Linked DNA regions of Homo sapiens: region 1 is linked to region 2. Evidence: fine-mapped expression QTL. A gene starts in region 2. The other region holds a variant in brackets. All regions are shown on one strand. Distances are from middle to middle.

Region 1 (10,371 bases), 55 kb after region 2:
GGAGACACAACAATGATTCTACTGAACTGTTAGTTAAAACTGCCATCTGGCCACTTTGGGCTCCTCATGCCTTGGAATCAACAGGCAGCAGAGGGCGGGTACTGTACTGGCTGGGGTGATTAATCCTGATTACCAAGGGGATATTAGGTTGCTACTATACAACAGAGGTAAGGAAGAGTATGTCTCAAATGTGGCAGATCTCTTAGGGTGTCCCTTAGTACTAACATGACCTCTAATTAGTCAGTAGAAGATCACAACCCAGTTCACATGGGACTGCTAGTGGCCTAGAAGACATTTTAGGAATGAAGGTCACCCCACCAGGCAAAGAACTAGGACAAACTGAGGTACTTCCTGAGGGCAAAGGGAATATGAAAAGGGGAGTAGAAATATCACCCTTTCCACACCAAACCTGGTACACAGCCAGTGCACTGCGGTGTCATCTGAGGGAGCTGCAGTCAAGGACTTGGGTCTCTGGGGCTGGCTAAGCTCTTACACAAATGTGCATTCCTAGCCTAGATGCCTTCTATTCCTAGGTCTTTTTATATGGGGACTTTGGCTGAGGCCTTCTTCAGGTGCCTCTGCTGAGACCTTGTCAAAGGAGGAAGGGGAAATCTTTTATTTATTTATTTATTTTTTTGAGATGGAGTTTCACTCTGTCGCCCAGGCTGGAGTGCAATGGTACAATCTCGGCTCACTGCAACCTCTGCCTCCCGGGTTCAAGTGATTCTCCTGCCTCAGCCTCCTGAGTAGCTGGGAATGCAGGCATGTACCACCACGCCTGGCTAATTTTCGTATTTTTAGTGGAGATGAGGTTTTGCCATATTGGCCAGGCTGGTCTCGAACTCCTGACCTCAGGTGATCTGCCCGCCTTGGCCTCCCAAAGTGCTGGTATTACAGGCATGAGCCACTGCACCTGGCCGGAATGGGAAATCTTAAAGACACTTCTCCCAGTCTACTCCACTCTCCTCACCCAGGGTCCATAAAGCCGCAGGAACCTTTTGTTCAGGGCTTTCACAACAGTGAGATGTCCCCCACTTGTATGCTAATCTACCAGATCCTCAACCAGTGTACCATTCCATGGGGAAAACGGTACTGGGGGGAAAAAGGAGCTGGCACTTTCTTTGGTTTTTAGCCTTTTGTGTAAACTATCAAAGTAAGTGAATAAAGGCTCCACTGTTACTTTCCTTTTGGGTTGTTTAATTATTTACTCTGATATTTGATAGCTCAGTTCTCTTTCCACATCAGCTGAATACTGATCTGGAAATATTATAAATATTCATTTCTGAATACAGTAATGAATACTGTACTATTTATGAGGATTTCTTATTTTGTTATGAATATATATAATTAACCAAATATTTGTGTTTCTTCTCTATCTCCTTATCATCTAATATAAGATGTATCCATAATGGTTAACTTTATATCATAGCATTTATGTTACAGAATATGAGAGAAGAGTGAATTTCACCCAAGGACTCTGCATCCTCTTCTAGGGAAAGGATTAGTGTATTTTTGGTTGTATAAAGGAGAATTGCATTATGTCAGGATAAAGTATGACTCCTGTCATTGCCTTTATTTGAAGACTATGTATGGCTTTAGGAGATGTGTATGGGTGTCAAACAGACAAGGGGTGGAGTATGATAGTCTTCAGATATGTTAACTTGGCTAGGCTACAGCCCAGTTATTCAATAAACATTAACCTAGATGTTACTATGAAGGTATTTTATAAGTGATTAAAGTCCTATCAGCTGATAAACTATCAATATCAGGAATGAATGAGGAGACATCAGTATAGAGTATAAAAACATTAAAATGACAAGTATTATGAACAGCTTTATTGCAATAAATTTGGCAAATTGTTAATAGATGAACAAATTATTTGAAAGACACAAACTACTATCGTAGCTTACTCTAGAATGGAGAACCTGAATAGCCCTATATCTATTAATTGAATTCATAAGTAAAAATTTTCCCAACAAAGAAAACTAGGAGCCCAGGAATTACTGGTTAATTCTATCAAGTATTTAAGAAATAATACCAACTCTACATAAAATCTTCCAGAAAATATAAGAGGAGGCCAGGCACAGTGGCTCACACCTGTAATCCCAGCACTTTGGGAGGCTGAGGCAGGTAGGTGGATCATGAGGTCAGAAGATTGAGACCATCCTGGCCAACATGATGAAACACTGTTTCTACTAAAAATACAAAAATTAGCCCAAGATCTCGCCACTGCACCACTCCAGCCTGGCGACAGGGTGAGACTCCATCTCAAAAAAAAAAAAAAAAGAGGAGAGAACACTTCTCAATTCATTTTATGAAGCCAGCATTATCCTGATGCCAACACCACGCAAAAATATCATAAGAAAATTATCCTTGAGACTTTATCCCTCATGATGACATAAAAATCCTTTATAATATATGACAACAAAATGGAGTTTATTCCAAGAAGCAAGGCTAGTTCAATATTCAAAAATCAATGTGACTGACATTATTAATAGACTAAAAAAGAAGAAAACCCCACAATTATCTCTGTAGATGGAGAAAAGGCATGACAAAATTCAATACTCATTCTCAGCAAACCTGATAAAGAGCACATATGAAAAACCTACAACTAACATCATACTTAATACTGAATGCTTTCCTCCTAAGACTGGGAACAAGTTGACAATACTTGTTCTCATGACTTCTATCCAGTATTGTACAAAGGTCTTAGACATTGTGGTAAGTCAAGAAAAAGAAACAAATGACATCTATATTGGAAAGAAAGAAGTCAAACTGTCTTTACTTACAGACAACATAATTATCTATGTAGAAAATCCTCAGGAATCTATTAATAAAAAAGGCTACTAGAACTAGTAAATGAATTTAGCTAAACCACAAGATACAAGGTCCATGTCCAAAAATCTTTGTATTTCTATATTCTAGTGAGAAATTAAAGTTAAAAAAGTAAAACAGCCTACAAGTATGAAATACCTAGGCATAAATTTAACAAAATGTGTTCAAGATCTATTCACTGAAAAGTACCAAACACTGCTGAGAGAAATTTAAAGACCTAAATAAACAGAGAACTTTACCATGTTCATGGATGAAATGACTCAATATTTTTAAGCTGTCAATTCTCCCCAAATTTATATACTGACTCAATGCAATTCCAATAAAAATCCTAGCAGGTATTTTTGTAGATATGGACAAAATGATTATAAAATTTGTACACAAATGCAAAGGAACTAGTATGAGCAAAATAATTTTGAAAGAAGGGACCTGAGTTGGAGGACTCATACTGCTTAATTTCAGGATTCCCTATAAAAATACAATAATCAAGACAGTGTGGTATTGGTTTAACAAAAAGACATATAGATAACTAGGAATAGGAAATCCAATTGGCCCAAACAGATAAGGTCAGTTGATTTTTGATCAAGGGATCAAAGTAGTTCACTGAGGAAATAGTAGTCTTCTCAACAAATGGTGCCAGGACATTTGGATATTCATATGCAAAAAGGGAAGAAAAGGCCCTCAATCCTTACCTCACACCATATACAAACTTGAAATGAATCACAGACCAAAATGTAAGAGCTAAAACTAGAAAATTTCTAGAAGAAAGTATACAGGAACATCTTAGTGATATTGAGTTAGAAAAATACTTTTTAGATCCCACACTAATAGCATGATCCATAAATACTCCAAATGGATCACAGACCAAAATGTAAGAGCTAAAACTAGAAAATTTCTAGAAGAAAGTATACAGGAAAACTTAGTGATCTTGAGTTAGAGAAATATTTTTTAGATACCACACTAATAGCATGATCCATAAAAGAGAAACTTGATAAACCAGACTTCATTAAAATTAAGAATTTCTGCTCTTATATAGTGAAAAGATAAGCCAGAGACTGTGAGGAAATATTTGCAAATCATATATTTGATAAAGGACTCATATCCTAATATATAAAGAACTCTGAAAACTCGATAATAGGAAAAACACTCAGTCCAAGAAAATGGGCAAAAAATTTGAACAGATGCTTCTTTATCAAATAAGATATACAGATATTCAATATCTTTGGTAATTAGGGTAATATAAAAACCACAATGAAATATGACTAATTCCAGCTGGGTGTGGTGGCACACGCCTGTAATCTCAGCACTTTGGGAGGCCAAGGCAGGGGGATAACTTGAGGTCAGGAGTTTGAGACCAGCCCTGACAACATGGTAAAACCCGATCTCTACTAAAAATACAAAAATTAGTTGGACATGGTGGTGGGCGCCTGTAGTCCCAGCTACTTGGGACGCTGAGGCAGGAGAATCGCTTGAACCTGGCAGGCAGAGGTTGCAGTGAGCCAAAATTGTTCCACTGCACTCCAGCCTGGGCAACAGAGCGAGACTTTGTCTCAAAAAAAAAAAAAGAAAAAAGAACTGTTACTACATTCCTGTTAGAATGTCTAAAATTAAAAAGATTGACCATGCAAAGTGGTTGGTACCTAGAACTCTCATACACTGCTGGTGGGAATGCAAAAGAGTATAACCACTTTGGGAAAACAGTCTGACAGAAAAGCAAACACATACCTAGCAAATACTAGTGGCATATGCCTCGTAATCCCGGCTTCTTGGGAGGCTGAGGCAGGAAGACTGCTTGAGCCCAGGAGTCTGAGGCCAGCCTGGGTGACAGAGCAAGACTCAAAGTCTCATCTCTAAATTTTTTTTTTTTCTTCCCAGAGATAAGGTCTCCCTCTCTCACCCAGGCTGGAGTGCAGTGGCCTGATCATAGCTCCATGTGACTTCAAACTCCTGGGTTCAAGCAATCCTCCTGCCTCAGCCTCCCTAGTAGCCAGGACTACAGGCATGTGCCACCACACCCAACTAGTTAAAACTTTTTATTTTGTTGAGACAGAGTCTTGCTATGTTGCTCAGGCCAAACTTTTTTTTTCAAAAGCTAATATATATCTGTTATATGGACTAGCCAATCCACTCTTCAGTACTTACCCAACAGAAATGAAACATTTGTCCACATAAAGACTTTTTTTTTTTTTGAGACAGAGTCTCGCTCTGTCACCCAGGCTGGAGTGCAGTGGCACAATCTTGGCTCACGGCAACCTCCACCTCCTGGGTTCAAGTGATTCTCCTACCTTAGCCTCCCAAGTAGCTGGGACCACAGGTGCACACCACTACACCCAGCTAATTTTTGTATTTTTAGTAGAGATGGGGTTTCGCCATGTTGGTCAGGCTGGTGTTGAATTCCTGACCTCAGGTGATCAGCCTGCCTCAGCCTCCCAAAGTGCTGGGATTAGAGGCTTGAGCCACCACGCCCAGTCACGCCCACATAAAGACTTAAAGATGAATGTTCATAGCAGCTTTATTCAGAATAGCCCTAAATTAGAAACAACTCAAATGCTCATCATTTGGTGAACGGATAAACAAACTATGGTACATTTCTACAATGGAGTAACACTCAGCAATAAGGACAAACTGCTGATATATGCAACAGTATGGATGCATCTCAAAAGCATTATGCTAAGTGAACGAAGATTAAAACAAACTACATACCAGAAATGTTTAAAAATTTTTGTTTAAAAGATGGCATCTCACTCTGTTGCTCAGGCTGGAGTGCAGTGGTGTGATCATAGCTCACTACAGCCTTGAACTTCTGGGCTCAAACAATATTCCTGTCTCAGCCTCCTGACTAGCTGGGACTACAGGTATACACTATGATAC[C/T]CAGCTAATTGAAAAAAAAAAATTCTTTTTTAAGAGATAGGATCTTGCTCTGTTGTCCAGGCTGGTCTTGAATTCCAGGCCTCAAGCAATTCTCCCACCTCAGCCTCCCAAAATGCTATGATTACAGGTGTGAGCCACCATGCACGGCTATTTTTGGATTGTGGCAGTGTTTACACAGCTATATACATTTTCAAAACTCAAATTATACATTAAAAGTTGGTCAATTTCACCAGACACAGTGGCTCACACCTGTAAATCTCGGCACTTTGGGTGGCTGAGGGAGGAGGATTACTTGAGCCCGGAGTTTGAGACTAGCCTGGAAAACAGAGTGAGATCTCGTTTCTACAAAAAATAAAAAATTAGCTGGTGTAGCAGCGTATGCCTGTGGTCTCAGCTACTCGGGGGGCACAAGTGGGAAGATCATTTGAGCCCAAAAAGTTGAGGTTGCAACAAGCTATATTCACACCACCATATTCCAGTCTGAGCAACAGAGTGAGACCCCAACATGTGTGCGCGCGCACACACACACACACACACACACACAAAATTAATACATTTACTATTATGTAAGTAATATCTCAATAATGCTGATTTTCAATAAATATAAGAGGGTAATGAACACACAAGTCAGAATAGTGGCTTCTTTGGATAAAGGGAGGCAAAGAAACTGAATGGGAGGAAGTAGCCCATCAGTAGATATCAATTATTGTTAATATTCTCAGGTTGGTTGTTTCATTTATTATATTACTAAAACAGACACAAGAAACTGAAGGAAGGTTATGCATGGATAATGATACAGGTAATTTAAGAACCAAAAATAATGACTTGACTGAATTCTGTACTCCTAATGTTCTAATTATAAAGCAAAATAAAAATCAGGGTGATGTTGAAAATGATTTAGTATTAGCTATTTTATAAAACTTCCTTCCTTAGAATAATGACTCATTTCTTAAGAGTTTGAGCTTCTCTCTGTGCTTCCTGTGATATTCAAGAGGTTAACTGTTTTTTCTTTTGAGATGGGAGTCTGGCTCTGTTGCCCAGGCTGGAGCACAATGGCATGATCTTGGCTCACTGCAACCTCAGCCCCGCCAGGTTCAAGCGATCCTCCTGCCTCAGCCTCCCAAGTAGCTGGAACTACAGGTTTGCACCACCACACCCGGCTAATCATTTTTAGTGGAGACAGGGTTTCGCCATGTTGGCAAGGCTGGTCTCAAACTCCTGACCTCAAGTGATCTTCCCGCCTCAGCCTCCCAAAGTGCTGGGATTACAGGTGTGAGCCACCGTGCCTGGCCTAAGAGGTTAACTCTTTAAGAAAATAAGTAACTTTATAAGGTCTGACTCTGAGATGTGCTAACACTTACCCAGGGGTTCCACCAGTTGGTCAACCAGTCCCATTTTCTTTGCCCTGTCTGCACGAATGCTTCTACCAGTCAGCATCATGTCCAAAGCAGCAGGCACACCCACCTAACAGGCAAGCAAGGATGAGAATATAGGGGGAAAAAAATCAGGGTGATAATTATATAGTTTACAAATCATCAAATGAACAAATATTAAAATGAGAAAAGTCAAGCCATATGTTTATGCTATTTGTCAACAGCATAGATAAGTTATATTTAATATACTGATATACACTTGGGTAACTTTGGGGATTAGATACCTCTAGCTGAAGCAAAAATGTCTTTATCTCTTAATTCAATATATAGGATTCTTATACTAATAAGGTAAAGAATTTCATGTTTCCTAAAATTGTACATTTCTGTTATTCTGAGGGGTTTTTTTCTATCATATATATAATATGTAAAATTCTGGCCAGGCACGGTGGCTCACACCTGTAATTCCAGCACTTTGGGAGGCCAAGGCAGGCGGGTCACCTGAGGTTAGGAGTTTGAGACCAGCCTGGCCCGACATGGTGAAACCCTGTCTTTACTAAAAATACAAAAAATTAGCTGGGCATGGTGGGGCACACCTGTCATTCCAGCTACTTGGGAGGCTGAGGCACAAGAATTGCTTGAATCCGGAGGCAGAGGTTGCAGTGAGCCGAGATCATGCCACTGTACTCCAGCCTGAACAACAAAAGTGACTCTGTCCCAAAAATAAAATAAAATAAAATTCTCATATTGAAACTAGAGAAGACTGTGAGAAACCTGATAGTTTTGACAAAGTCTTTAAAAAGAATTTTAAGCTTAACAAAAATAGAACTCAGCTAGGGCTGCTTATATGGCATACTAGAAGAAAGGCTTCTAGCAACATTCAAATACCAGCTATAGTTTAAGAAAAAAAAAAGAAGAAAGAAAGAAACTCAGCAAATATTTTTGATACACATATATGCATATTCATTCTTTCAATAAATCCTTATGACATTCCTATGAAGGAAAGCACATTATTATTATTAGAAAATTAACACCATAAACCTTGTTTTCTTTTGTGCTCAATTGAGATCAACTTCCCTGCAAAGAGTATTTCTGTTGAGCCTTGTTTTCACTGAGGAATCTACAGTGCCAGAAGCTATAAGGTTCAGTGGGCCCTTGAGTTGACATTAAGATTGCTCTGCAGCATCCAGGTCTGACTGTCCTTCCCTTCTCCTTGGAATTCAAAGCCTGCTGAGCCTCTTTTGGTTCCATACAACACAGCAGTGAGAACATCCAAATCAGACAATGAGGGAAAAGGTCTGCCTCTTATATTTGTAATGAAATATTAATATGACTCATGGTTTTGAAAAACTGTTAAGATGGTATTATGTGGAAAAGGAACCAATTAAACCATAAGCTCCAGAAATGCAAGACATGCATCTTAGTTATCTTTATCCTTCCTCAGAGACTAACAAAGGACCTTGATCAATAATTCTGTGGAATTAGGCCAGGCATGGTGGTTCATGCCTGTAGTCCTAGCACTTTGGGAGGCTGAGGCGGGAGGATTACCTGAGGTCGGGAGTTCAAGACCAGCCTGGCCAACATGGCGAAACTCCATCTCTACTAAAAAATATAAAAAATTAGCTGGGTGCAGTGGTGCACGCCTGTAATTCCAGCTACTGGGGAGGCTGAGGCAGGAGAATCGCTTGAACCTGGGAGGAGAAGGTTGCAGTGAGCTGAGATCACACCACTGCACTCTAGCCTGGGCTACAGAGCAAGATTTTGTCTCAAAAAAAAAAAAAAAAAAAAATCTGTGGAATTGAAAAAATAAGTACCAGGAATAAAGTCTGTCACTGATCCTGTACACTCATATTTTATTTGGTTTTTTAATTCTACAATGAATGCCCATATTATGCATTTTATACAAGAAAACAGATCTAAAGAGGGCATATAGCTTCACAAAGGGGATGTTAGACTCACCATTTTGGGCAGCCTTTGTGTGCCTCCTGCTCCTGGTAAGGCCCCCAGCAAAACTTCAGGGGTACCTAATACTGTTTTTCTGTCTTTTGTTGCTATTCTGTATTGGCATGAAATGGCAACCTTTGAACAAATGAAAGAAAATTAGAATGTTAGAAAATGTAACTTAGTAGCAACTTGAGATGGATAAGGGTCTAAAGATTATTTATAAAGCAGGAATGTGCTCACAGAATAAACTGAAATTCCTTAGGCTGGCATTTAATAATTTCTAGAATTTACCTTTTTAGCCTTTTTTTCATACTTTTCCTCTAATTTACTAACCTCTTTTTGGGCCGTAGATCTCCTAAAAAATCTACTGAAAGCTAGAGAAGCTCTCAAGAGAAAAATGCACACACAATTTTATATGGACCCCAGGTTAAAAAGCCCCGGACTCTCCAATCAAGCACGTCTACTTACAGTGTCCTAGTTGGCTTTGCTTTTGCCTTTGCTCACACCATACCATATGCGGAATTGTTTTTCCCTCCATATTCTGGTTAATCAAATTCTGCTTATAGTTTAGGACCAGGCACAGGTTTTCTTAATTAATATAGTCATGTGTCACATAATGAGGGGGATATGTTCTGAGAAATGTACCATTAGGAAATTTTGTTGTTGTGTGAACATCGCAGAGTGTACTTACACAAACCCAGATGGCAGAGCCTGCTACACATCTAGGCTATATGGGATAGCCTATTGCTCCTAGTCCAGCAGTCCCCAACCTTTTTGACGCCAGGGACAGGTTTTGTGAAAGGCAATTTTTCCAAGAACTGGGGGTGGGGTGGGAGGGAGTGGTTTCAGGATGAAACTGTTCCACTTCAAATCATCAGGCAATAGAGGCCAATGGAGTGCGCAACCTGGATCCCTCTCATGTGCAGTTCACAACAGGGTTCCAGCTCTTATGAGAATCTAATGCCACTGTTGATATGACAGGAGGCGGAACTCAGGTGGTAATGTTCACTCGCCCACTGCTCACCTCCTGCTGTGGGGCCCAGTTCCTAACAGGCTATGGCCTGGGAACTGGGGACCCCTGTCCTAAGGGGCTACAAACCTGGACTGCATGTGACTATTGAATACTGTAGGCAACTGTGGCACAGTGATAAGCATTTCTGTATCTAAACACAGAAAAGGTATAGAAAAATGTAGTGTTACAGTCTTATAGAACCACTGCTGTATGTGCAATTGGTCATTGAAACGTTATGTGGTAAATGACTGCATATGTGAAAGTGTCTGGCACAGAGTTCAGCATGTGAAAAGTGCTCAATGAATGTTTCCTTTTCCCCTTCTTTTCTTTCCTACATGTTCG
Region 2 (10,371 bases):
CCAGCCTAGCCTGGCAAAATAGCAAGACACCATTAAAAAAAAAAAGTTTCTATCTTTAGAGGTAGATATAGAGATATTTAAAGATAAAATACTGGGCTCAGTGGCCCATACCTGTAGTCCCACCCACTTGGGAGGATTGTTTGAGCCCAGGAGTTCAAGACCAGCCTGGGAAGTATAGTAAGACCCTCTTTTAAAAAATACAAAGAAAGGCCAGGTGCGGTGGCTCACGCCTGTAATCCCAGCACTTTGGGAGGCCGAGGCAGGCAGATCACCTGAGGTAGGGGTTCAAGACCAGCCTGGCCAACATGGTGAAACCCTGTCTCTACTAAATAATACAAAAATTAGCCAGGCATGGTGGTGGGCACCTGTAATCCCAGCTACTTGGGAGGCTGAGGCTTGAACCTGGGAGGCAGAGGTCGCAGTGAGCTGAGATTGTGCCATTGTACTCTAGCCAGGGTGACATGGTAAGACTGTCTCAAAAATAAAATAGAAAAACAAAAAGAAAACTAGATTGTAATGATGTTTGCAAGATACGATGAATACTAAAAACACTAAATGGTAAACTTTAGATGGGTGAATTGTATAGTATGTGAATTATATTTCAATAAAGTTGTTTTTAACACTCCAAGATGGGTGACGGAGGGAAGACCCTGTCTCTAAAATGAAAAAAAAAAAAAAAAGAAAACTTTTTTTTTTTTATCCAGTGAGGAAGGGTTGTAAGCAGGTACACAAAAATCAGATCAGCCGTGGGTTGGTAGGTGCTAAAGCTGGAAGATGAGCACACGGGAAGTCACATGCTATTATCTCTAGTTGTGTCTACATTTAGAATGTTCTGAAATAAAAAGTTAAATACAATATTACCTAAATTTCTCATAGGTGCTTTCCTAAATGTTTCCTGGCCTCGCCCAGTTCATGATCCCAGAAAAGGCCATCTGTCCTCTAGATGGGGTGGGGCAGGGTACTTTATAAATAATAACCCTAGCTGCTGTGGGCAGCTTTCCCTGCCTCTACTCCATTGACCTCTATGCTCCGCTCACGGGCAGCCTGGCCAGCCTCTGCCACAGCCTGGCCTCTGGGTCAACACTGGGCCTCTGGTAGGGCTGTGACCCCTCCCTACTTTTTCCTCCCCTCCAGCCAATAGGGCTCTCCTTCTTAAAATTTTTTTTATTTTTGAGACAGTGTCTTGCCCCATCACCCAGGCTGGAGTGCAGTGGCATGATCACAGCTCATTGCAGCCTCAACCTCCTGGGCTCAAGTGATCCTCCTGCCTCCGCCTCCCGAGTAGTTGGGACCACAGGAGCACACCACCATGCCTGGCTAGTTTTTGTATTTTTTGTAGAGACAGAGTTTCACTATGTTGCCGGCCTAGTCTCAAACTCCTGGGCTCAAGTGATCTGCCCGCCTCAGCCTCCCATAGTGGTGGGATACTATGCTGGGCCAGGCTCCACCTTCTACTTGTCACTGCCAGCGCTGTCAGAGTGGAGCCCACTGCAGAGGAGCTGGGATCCCCTTGGCTGGGCTCTTTCTTCTGTTCCTCCTCCCTCTCTTTCCCCCAGCTGACTCTCCTGGAGCGGGAAGCACAGGCCCAGCCACACACAGCACCTAGGCCCCAGATTCTCCCACGGCCACACCAAGCCACACAGCCTGGCCTCTCTGCCCAGCATCTTCCTCCCTCTTGGTGCCCTCTTGGCTCTCCTTCCTGCAATCTCAGTCCAAGGAAAGATCTAAACATTTCTGCCTCCAAGAGAAGCTGAGTTCCTTCCTGCAGGACTCCTGAGCCTCAGCAAATCAAGTGATGTATGTGTCTGGACACTTGTGTCAGGTCCCTGGAGACTTGACAACAGTTAAGAAGCCCTGGAAAGGCTCTGGAATATTCTGCAACAGTGAGGAGGTGGGTCCATTTAGTTAGGTGAATCTGCCTGGTGTCTCACAGCGGTGTTGCCCCTAACTCAGCCGAAATCCAGGGTTATAGGTTTTGGGTGTGAAATAGGCAGGTTGCCTGGGGGAGAGAAGATCCAAACTGTGAACGAAAGCCTGGCTGGGACTGGAGCTCCTGGGAAGAGGAGGCTGGGGCTCCATGACACCTGGTGGAAGAGGAATTGCCAGCACTTGGTGACTAGTTTGGTATAAAGGTTAGGGAGAAGATTTCCAGGTTGGGAGACCAGGGTAAAGGAGATGTCCTCAGCTGGGATAGAAAATAAAAGGGGACCCGGTTCAAGTGTGATTGTGGAAATGGAAGTGGCTGTGAACGCCTTTTGGGGGCGAAGGGGTAGAGCTGGAAGTTGAGGTCGGGAGCTGAGGAGAGCCGGCCATGCTGAGTAAGAGAAGCCACCGTAGATGTGGCGTCTCTGTCCAGGGCGCAGGGAGAAGGTGACCACGTGGCTCAATGCCAGTTTATACCTGCTGTCTGGAGCCCAGGCTACCTGCACCTGTTGTCCTAGCTGGGTGGGGAGGTGGTTAGTACCGGCTTCCCTCTTAAAAGTCTCCCAGTTAGGATGACACACGGTCACCCTAAAGAGAGACCCTACAGGGTAGGGGAAGAAAAGTGAATCTAAGGCAGCACCCTTCTCATTCACTTGCTTCTTCCGGCCTTTTCGCCCTCCTGTCTCAGACCTTCCATTCCCTTCTTTTCTTTTTTTTTTTTTTTGAGATGGAGTTTCGCTCTGTCACCCAGGCTGGAGTGTAGTGGCACGATCTCGGCTCACTGCAACCTCCGCCTCCCAGGTTCAAGCAATTCTCCTGCCTCAGCTTCCTGAGTAGCTGGGATTACAGATGTACCTGGAGTGGCAGACAAGCACCACCATGCCCGGCTAATTTTTTGCCTGGATAATTTTTGTATTTTTAGTAGAGACAGGGTTTCACCATGTTGGCCAGGCTGGTCTCGAACTCCTGACCTCAAGTGATCCACCTGCCTTGGCCTGCCAAACTGTTGAGATTACAGGTGTGAGCCACCGCGCCTGGCCCATTCCCTTCTTAAGACTCCTATATTTTCACTGTATTTTCTTTTCTTCTCCTGCCAGGCTTCACCTTCCCACTTCCCTGGGAAAGAACCCACCCCACCCCTACAGACTCAGGAGAGCGGAGTCCATCTGGGCTGCCTGAGTCACCGGGGTGAGCAGCTCCTCCCTGGCCAGGGTGAGCGGGCTGGGTTTGGGCCAGGCTGGGGAAGGGCCTCGGTCAAGTTGGTAGGTGGGGGTCCTGCCTTCTGGTCGCAGCGCTGCCTCTTTCTTGCCGTGTGACCTTAGAGCAAAGCATTTCTGCTCTTGGAGTCTCAGTTTTTTCCTCTGCAGCAGTTGAGGATTGAACCACTGATCTAAAACGTCTCTTCTCGCTGAGAAGTGGTGTTCATCTTGTCGGCTGCCATTTCTCATGGGGTTCGAGCCATAAGATGCCAGGTGTCAGTCACCTCAGAAGAGAGGGTTTTGTTTGTATTTGGTGGGGTTCTTCCGGGGGTACCGAGGCTGAGGACTGATGGATCGAGGCGGGTGGATCACTTGAGTTCGGAGTTCGAGACCAGCCTGGCCAACATGGCGAAACCCTGTCTCTACTAAAAATACAAAAATTAGCCAGGTGAAAAATTAGCCGGGCATGGTGGTGCTTGTCTGTAATCCCAGCTACATATGTAATTCCAGCTACTCAGGAAGCTGAGGCAGGAGAATTGCTTGAACCTGCGGGGCGGAGGTTGCAGTGAGCCGAGATCGTGCCACTACACTCCCGTGAGGGAGCAGCCTAGGGACTAAGGCCCGCTGGCTCCGCGAGATCAGCCAGGCCCGCATCATCCCCCAATTACCTGCAGAGGGCGCCGCAGACACAGAGAGGGCGAGGCCGAGGCCGAGGCCATCTAAGCTTCTGGGAAGGGGGTCCCAAAGGGAGGCCCCGAGCTGGAGTCCAGGGGGCTTGGAAGGAAGAGGTGAGGACAGCAGAAAAGGAAACGCAAATTAAAAGAAGGGAACGAAGGCTGGGCGCGGTGGCTTACGCCTGTAAGTCCAGCACTTTGGGAGGCCGAGTCGGGAGGATCGCTTGAGGTCAGGAGTTCAAGACCAGCCTGGCCAACATGGTGAAACGCCGTCTCTACTAAAAATACAAAAAAATTAGCCAGGAGTGGTGGCAGGTGCCTGTCATCCCAGCTACTCCGCAGGCTGAGGTGGGAGGATCGCTTGAGCCCGGGAGGTGGGGGTTGCAGTGAGCCGAGATCGCGCCACTGCACTCCAGGCTGGGTGATAGAGTGAGACCCAGTCTCAAAAAAAGAGAAGGAAAAGAGAGAAGGGATGGTGGCGGTGGGGGAGGAAGGCGGTTCTTGTAATGATCCGAGAGGAGACCGCAGCACCGGTTACGCCCTCGAACCTCGGCCTCCTCATCTGCAGAATGGACGCAGTCCACACCGCGTGCTGTGGAAGGGTTGGAGCGCCGGTTTACATGACACAGGGCTATCGGCTAAGGGGGCGCTGGGAACGTGGAAGGTGCTCTATGGTGGGGCGCTGTAGGGTGCTCTTGGGCAGTAGGGTTGGAGTCAAATCTGGGTTGAAGTCCAACCTAGGTTGAAGTCCTGGCTGCCACCTGACCTCTGCCCCTCAGTTTGCTCATCAGTAAAATGGGGTTAAGGAGGCTGCCTCGCCCAGCTCCACGGAGCCGGAGGTGATGAAGGTCCTGGAAGAGCAGAATTCAGAACCCGAGCTTTGGGCGGCGGAGCAGGACAGGGCGCGGGTGGGCGCGGCCTCCGGGAGGCCAGCACGAGGGGGAGCGGCGGGGCCCGGACACACCCAGCCAGAAGGAGGAGGCCGACCCCGCGCCGACTCCGCAGATGCCGCTCGGGACTTCGTTGTCCCTCCAGGCGCCCGCCCTGGGGTCCTCCATCACCCGCCGTCACCTGGGCGCGGGGAAGCTGGCGGGAGGGGAGGCGGGGCTTGGCGGCAGCGGCGGGTGGGGGCCGGGGAGCGGGGGCAGGGGCGGGCGGACGGAGCGCGGGGCTGGGGACCCGGGGTCCCAGAAGGGGGCGCGGGGACGGGGTCCGAGGAGAGGGGGCCGGGGCGGGGCAGGGCGGACAGGGCTGGGGGCGGAGGTCCGGGGGTGGGTCCGGCGGCGAGTCCGGGTCGGGGCGGACAGAGCAGGGGGCGGGGGTCCGGGAGGAGGGGGCCGGGGTCCGGGAGGAGGGGGCGGGGCCCGGGGGCGGGGCCGGGGTCGGCGCCCTGCGGGGAGGCCGGCCACGTGACGCCCGCGGCCCGGCGGGGCTGCCAGGCGGCGAGCGCCGCGGCGGCCCCGGGAGGTGGCGGCGGGCGCGAGAGCCTGGGCCGCGCGGGACTGACCGTCGGGGCCCCGGGACGGCGGCCCCGGGGCGCCCATGCCATGGAGAAGCTGGCGGCCGGGCTGGCCGGCCTGCGCTGGAGCATGGGCGCCTTCCCGCTCGACCTCATCGTCAGCCGCTGCCGCCTGCCCACGCTCGCCTGCCTTGGGCCAGGTACCGGGGTCGCTGGAGATGGGGACCGGGGTCCGCGGGGAAATGGTGGGCTCTCCAGCCAGGGGCCAGAGGGATCGTGAGGAGGGTGCGGCACCCGCACCCTCCCAGCTCCCCGGCGTGGGCCCCGAGCGGTTCCTGGCGCGCCTCCCGGGAGACGCGGGGCCCACCCGCCAGGTCCGCCTCCTGGGCCCCGCGGACAAGCACAGGCACAGACACCGGGGACAGGGCCCGGGACAGAGTTTTCCCGCCCAGCTGGAGTCCGGAAAGGGGCCGAGCCCCTGCTCCCGCCCCGTCGGTTGCCCCCCTTTCCCCCGCTGCCCCTGGGCCCCCCGCCCCGGCCGCGCCCCCTTGGTCCCTTTGTCCCTGGCCTCTCACCTCTGTCTTCCCTCATCCCTGGGACCCGGACTCTGTCTTCCCCTTACCGCCACCCCTAGTCCTGCTCCGCCCCTCTGGGGACCCTTCTTGCACCTCCTTTCTCTTCCCTAGGAGCAGCCTCGGTCCTGGGGCGGGCAGGCCACCTTCGGGAGAGGCCGGCGGGAGCCGGGTCTGCTGCCCGGCGTGACCCCCAAACTCCCGGCCCTCCCCCGAATCTTGTCCCACTTCTTAATAGGACCTGGGGCCCCCAGCCGCTCGGCTGATGGAACCACGCATGGGGGCCCGAGAGGGTACGCCCGGAGGCTGCATGGAGCGAGGGGACCGTTTGGGGGGAGGGGGGTGCTGCTTGGTTGGGGGATGGGCGGTAGCCGGGGCTGGCAGCCAGGCCGGGGGTTTTGTGTGTGAGAAGAATAGGGGTTTGGCCCGCGTTGGCACACTCGCTTCCATGAATGCTAATGGGGCCCGCGGCCGCAGGCTCCTCGTCTCCCCGTGGGGCCCGGCAGCCCCTCCTCCGTGGCGGCCAGGAGTGGGCACAGTGGGCGTCAGCTGTCCCGGGAGCAGGCTCATGGGGGAGCATCGGCGCCCCGCCGTCGGGCAGGCCAGCGTCTAGTTCTCTGGCTCGCGGCCGAGTGGTCAGAGTGTGGTACTGTGTCTGCCTGTGAATGGAGGTCGCTGCCCTGGGGTCTTCTGGCCACTTCCCACACATCCTTTTTGGCATCTCCCCTTTCTGGGCAGCTTTTCTGAGCTCCTCGGTCTGCGTAGGGCCTCCTTTGGGCTCCCCGGCCACCTCATGCCAACTCTGGCTTGTCTCCTACTGTGCACCCCATTATAATGGTCAGTCAGTTTATTGTCTTTAGACCTGGCTGTGGGCTCCTTGAGACCAGGCATCCTTGCCCAATAAAGATTATGGATTGAATGAATGGGTGAGTGAATGAACAACTGGTGTGATGGCCCAGCTGTCTGTTGTGTGTGACAGTGTGTGGCTATGGCTGGGTCACCATCAGGGTGTGAATGTCTGGTCAGAATTGTATGGCTTGAAGGGTAGGTCCCTGTGTGCCTGTGCATTTGGGAGGGGCCCCTTGGCCGGAGACTGAGTTATGTTGTTTGGGTGACAAGCATCTGTCACTGTGGGCTATTGTGGTTCAGCTGTTGGTGGTCATGAGCCATGATTACTGCTGTGTGCCCATGTGGCTGTGAAGATGGGGCTAGGACCCAGGACAGCTCTCAGAGGAGGGAGCAGAGTTGGAGGAGAGCTTCTTGGGCCCCCGGAGGTGAGGAGGTACAGGGGAAAGCTTAGACAACACCCCCAACACACACATAGTGGGGGCCAGGCCCTTCCTGTGCGTCTTGAACCGCCCGCCACCCTGCCACACACACACACACACATACACACACACGCCTACCCCACATGTACACATTTTATGGAGCCCCCAGCCATCAGAGTAAACCATTTCCCATTTGATTGGCAGAAATTTTGTAAGTTGTGCCTGAAGGAGAAAGGAAGGAGGTACTCCCTACCCCCACCCTCCCCACCAGCTGCAGCCCGGACACAGCCCCTTCTGCCTCCTGGAAGCTGGGCTGCCCCTCCTGCTCCCCTGGAAACCGTTGCTGGGGTTGGCGCCTCCAGGCCCAGACCCCTCCCAACTCCCAACACCTCTGCCCCAGAGCAGCTTCCCCCAGGCCCCAGGGCTGGGCCTCCCACTCCTGCCTTCTAAACCTGCTCTCTCAACCCCTCCAACCCTCAGCCGTCACCCCTGTAACTGGGAGGATGAGGGGGCGTGGGGAGGGGGTGTCAAGGAGCTGCTTCTCTGAGATGGGGTTGGGGGTTTCTGGGGACTCCCCCCTCTCCTTCGAGGTCCCCTTGACAAGGCAGTGGGTGGCTTCTCTGAGATGGGGTTGGGGGTTTCTGGGGACTCCCCCCCTCTCCTTCGAGGTCCCCTGAACAAGGCAGTGGGTGGAAAGGAAGGGCTGCCCTTGGGAGAGGCAGTAATCAGCTGCTCTAAGCCCTGTCATTCTCCTGACCTGAGCGACCCGTGGCTCTGGGGGAGCTCTCACAGCTGGGACCTTATAAGGGACAGTCCCGTCCGGGCCCTCTCCACTGCCCCAGTAGGGCCCTTCTTGCAGGGCCTAGGCCCTGACTGGGAAGCACAGCTCCAGCATCTCCTGCTCAATAAAGTCTCCCTTCGCCACCACACCCCCAGCTGGAGCCTACTGCTGCCCTCCGGGTCCCCAGACATACTCCAGTCAGTGCCTCAAACTTGCCTAGTCTCTGGTACATCTCTGCCCACCTCCCCAGGGGCCTAAGGGCTCCTGGAGGGCAGGGGCTGGTCTGGGCTCATCCATGGGGAGCTCCCCCTGCTCCAGCTCAGAGCCAGGGACAGCAGGCATTCCAGCCACTGATGAACGAGGGGCCCCGTCGGGAGTCACAGCCCTGAGAGGCTCACAGCCAGCCCCACAGCCCCAGGCCCCAGCTGGCAGCCCGCCTGTCCCTTGAGCTTTGCTGACCTGGACAGGGATTGTGTGGAGCTGTCCCTCAGGGGGGCGGTCTTGGTGAGGACGTCACTATCTGTTCTTTCTGCCCCTTCTAATGTCCTGTCTTCCTTCCCCTCATCCTCTGTCCTCCTCCCCCTTCCCAGGGGAGTACGCCGAGGGCGTCAGTGAGCGAGACATCCTGCTCATCCACTCCTGCCGGCAGTGGACAACGGTGACAGCTCATACCCTGGAGGAGGGCCACTATGTCATCGGGCCCAAGATCGACATCCCCCTGCAGTACCCAGGTGTGTCCAGCCAGGACAGATGTCATAAAGCCTGTAGGGGGGTGTAGGCAGGAGGGACTGGGGCCAGGGGTAGGGGGAACGCTGGGACTAGCGAGGCGGTGATTAGGGTTAGGGTTGGAGTCAGAGCCCAGCAGTTTTCATTCTGTTCTGTGGCACTCTGGGTTTCTGGAGAGGTGGCTCACAGGTTTTTTGATTCACATTTTATTTTAAAGTAGATTTGAAACTAATGATTAAAAAATACCCACACTCTTAAATTACTACACATCAGAGCTTAACCCTAATCAGAGGCCTTCAGGGTATACCTTCGGCTGCCACGCTTAGCCATCTTTGTGCAGACCCTCCAAGAGAACATGTCCTGCCAGGACCTTTTCTGTACCGCGCAACCAAATACCGCAGAAACCAGCGAATGCCCAAGCTGGTTACATGGCTGCACCTCTCCGCGCTGATCCTGTTTTTCCCAATTTTTGCGTTAAACCTATTGTTTCCATTGGTTGACTTTATAAGTGAATATTAAAAATTTTAGACTTCTAAAGATTATGCTAATGGACTACCTTTATTAGTTTTATACGTGACGTTGACATATAATAAGATTTTGTTTGAAGAAAGGATTCTGTTACCAAAACAGAGTACAGCCCCTTCCTTTTACAGATGATGAAACGGAAGGCTTGGGGGAGGAGGTGACTTGCCCCGTGTCACACATCTAGGAAAGGAAGAGCCTGGCCAGATCCAGGTATCTCAACTGAGGGCTGGTGTCTGCTGCACTACACCAGGAGCGTGTGGTTGCTGTCCCCTGTGTGGGAGGGATGGGAGTCTGGTGGCCCCATCCCAGAGACGTCCCCGTGTGAGCCCCGGATCCCACATCTGCCATGTGTTAAGCATGTGCTGCATGCCATATGCTGGGCCGAACATTTTTGCCATTTCATCCTCATGGCAACCTGATGAGAAAGTCTTGTCAACTCCATTTAACTCACCAGGAAACTGAGGCTCCAGGAGTTTCAGTGGCTTGCCCAGTGCCATGTTTTTTATTTCATTTTTTGTGTTTTTAGAGATGGTCTCCTTATGTTGCCCAGGATGGTCTCAAACTCCTGGTCTCAATGAAGCCTCCTGCCTCAGTCTCCCAGAGTGCTGGGATTATAGGTGTGAGTCACTGGGCCAGGCCCAGTTCTGTGTGTGTGTGTGTGTTTTCTGTTGCTCAGGCTGGAGAGGAGAGGCGCCATCTTGGCTCACTGCCTCCGAGGTTCAAGGGATTCTCCTGCCTCGGCCTACCAAGTAGCTGGGATTACAGGTGCCTGCCACCACTCTCTGCTAATTTTTGTATTTTTAGTAGAGACAGGGTTTCACCATGTTGGCCAGGCTGGTCTCAAACTCCTGACCTCAAGTGATCCGGCCGCCTTGGCCTCCCAAAGTGCTGGAATTACAGGTGTCAGCCACCAAACCCAGCCCAGTTCTGTGTTTTTAACTGCTGTGCCCAGCTGCTCCTGACAACCCCCTCACCAAGGCTGGGAAGGTCCCATTGCTTCTTCACAGGTACCCCTGCCTCCTCTGGCCCTGGGTCTCCCTGAGCCAGGAGGACAGGACTGAGCCCTTTACAGAGGCTTCTGTCTTTTACAGCCTGTGAAGTTGGTACCTGTGTACTCCACCCCCCAAACCCTTAAAAGATGTGGAAACTCACTCAGATTTCTTTCTGACCTGGGGTTCTATCTTGGGCTTGGAGCCCACTGGGGGCCTGCTCAAGCTAGAAATTTCCAAGCTTGGTTCAGGGGG

Which allele goes with the higher level. Positions count from the first base shown, and alleles are read on the strand shown. Sizes are in standard deviations (SD) of each study's normalised expression.
For the expression in atrial appendage of the gene that starts at base 5,211 in region 2, T is the high allele of the variant in region 1 and C is the other (moderate effect, 0.51 SD a copy in GTEx).

What was found. PIP is the estimated chance that this variant, and not a neighbour inherited with it, causes the effect.
Region 1: its variant is the best candidate, but not a certain one, in a credible set for the expression of GAREM2 in atrial appendage (GTEx, PIP 0.70).

Annotation. Positions count from the first base shown.
Region 1 is chr2:26,223,128-26,233,498 of GRCh38, forward strand. HADHA (hydroxyacyl-CoA dehydrogenase trifunctional multienzyme complex subunit alpha) reads right to left here. Exons shown (of 20, transcript NM_000182.5): 6 at 9,033-9,152; 7 at 7,065-7,167. Among named protein-coding and RNA genes, the nearest start is that of HADHA, 16 kb to the right of the region's middle. The variant C/T (reference allele first, on the strand shown) is at 5,704.
Region 2 is chr2:26,167,878-26,178,248 of GRCh38, forward strand. GAREM2 (GRB2 associated regulator of MAPK1 subtype 2) reads left to right here and starts at 5,211. Exons shown (of 6, transcript NM_001168241.2): 1 at 5,211-5,455; 2 at 8,467-8,607. The coding sequence starts at 5,344. RefSeq lists an enhancer at 7,673-8,211.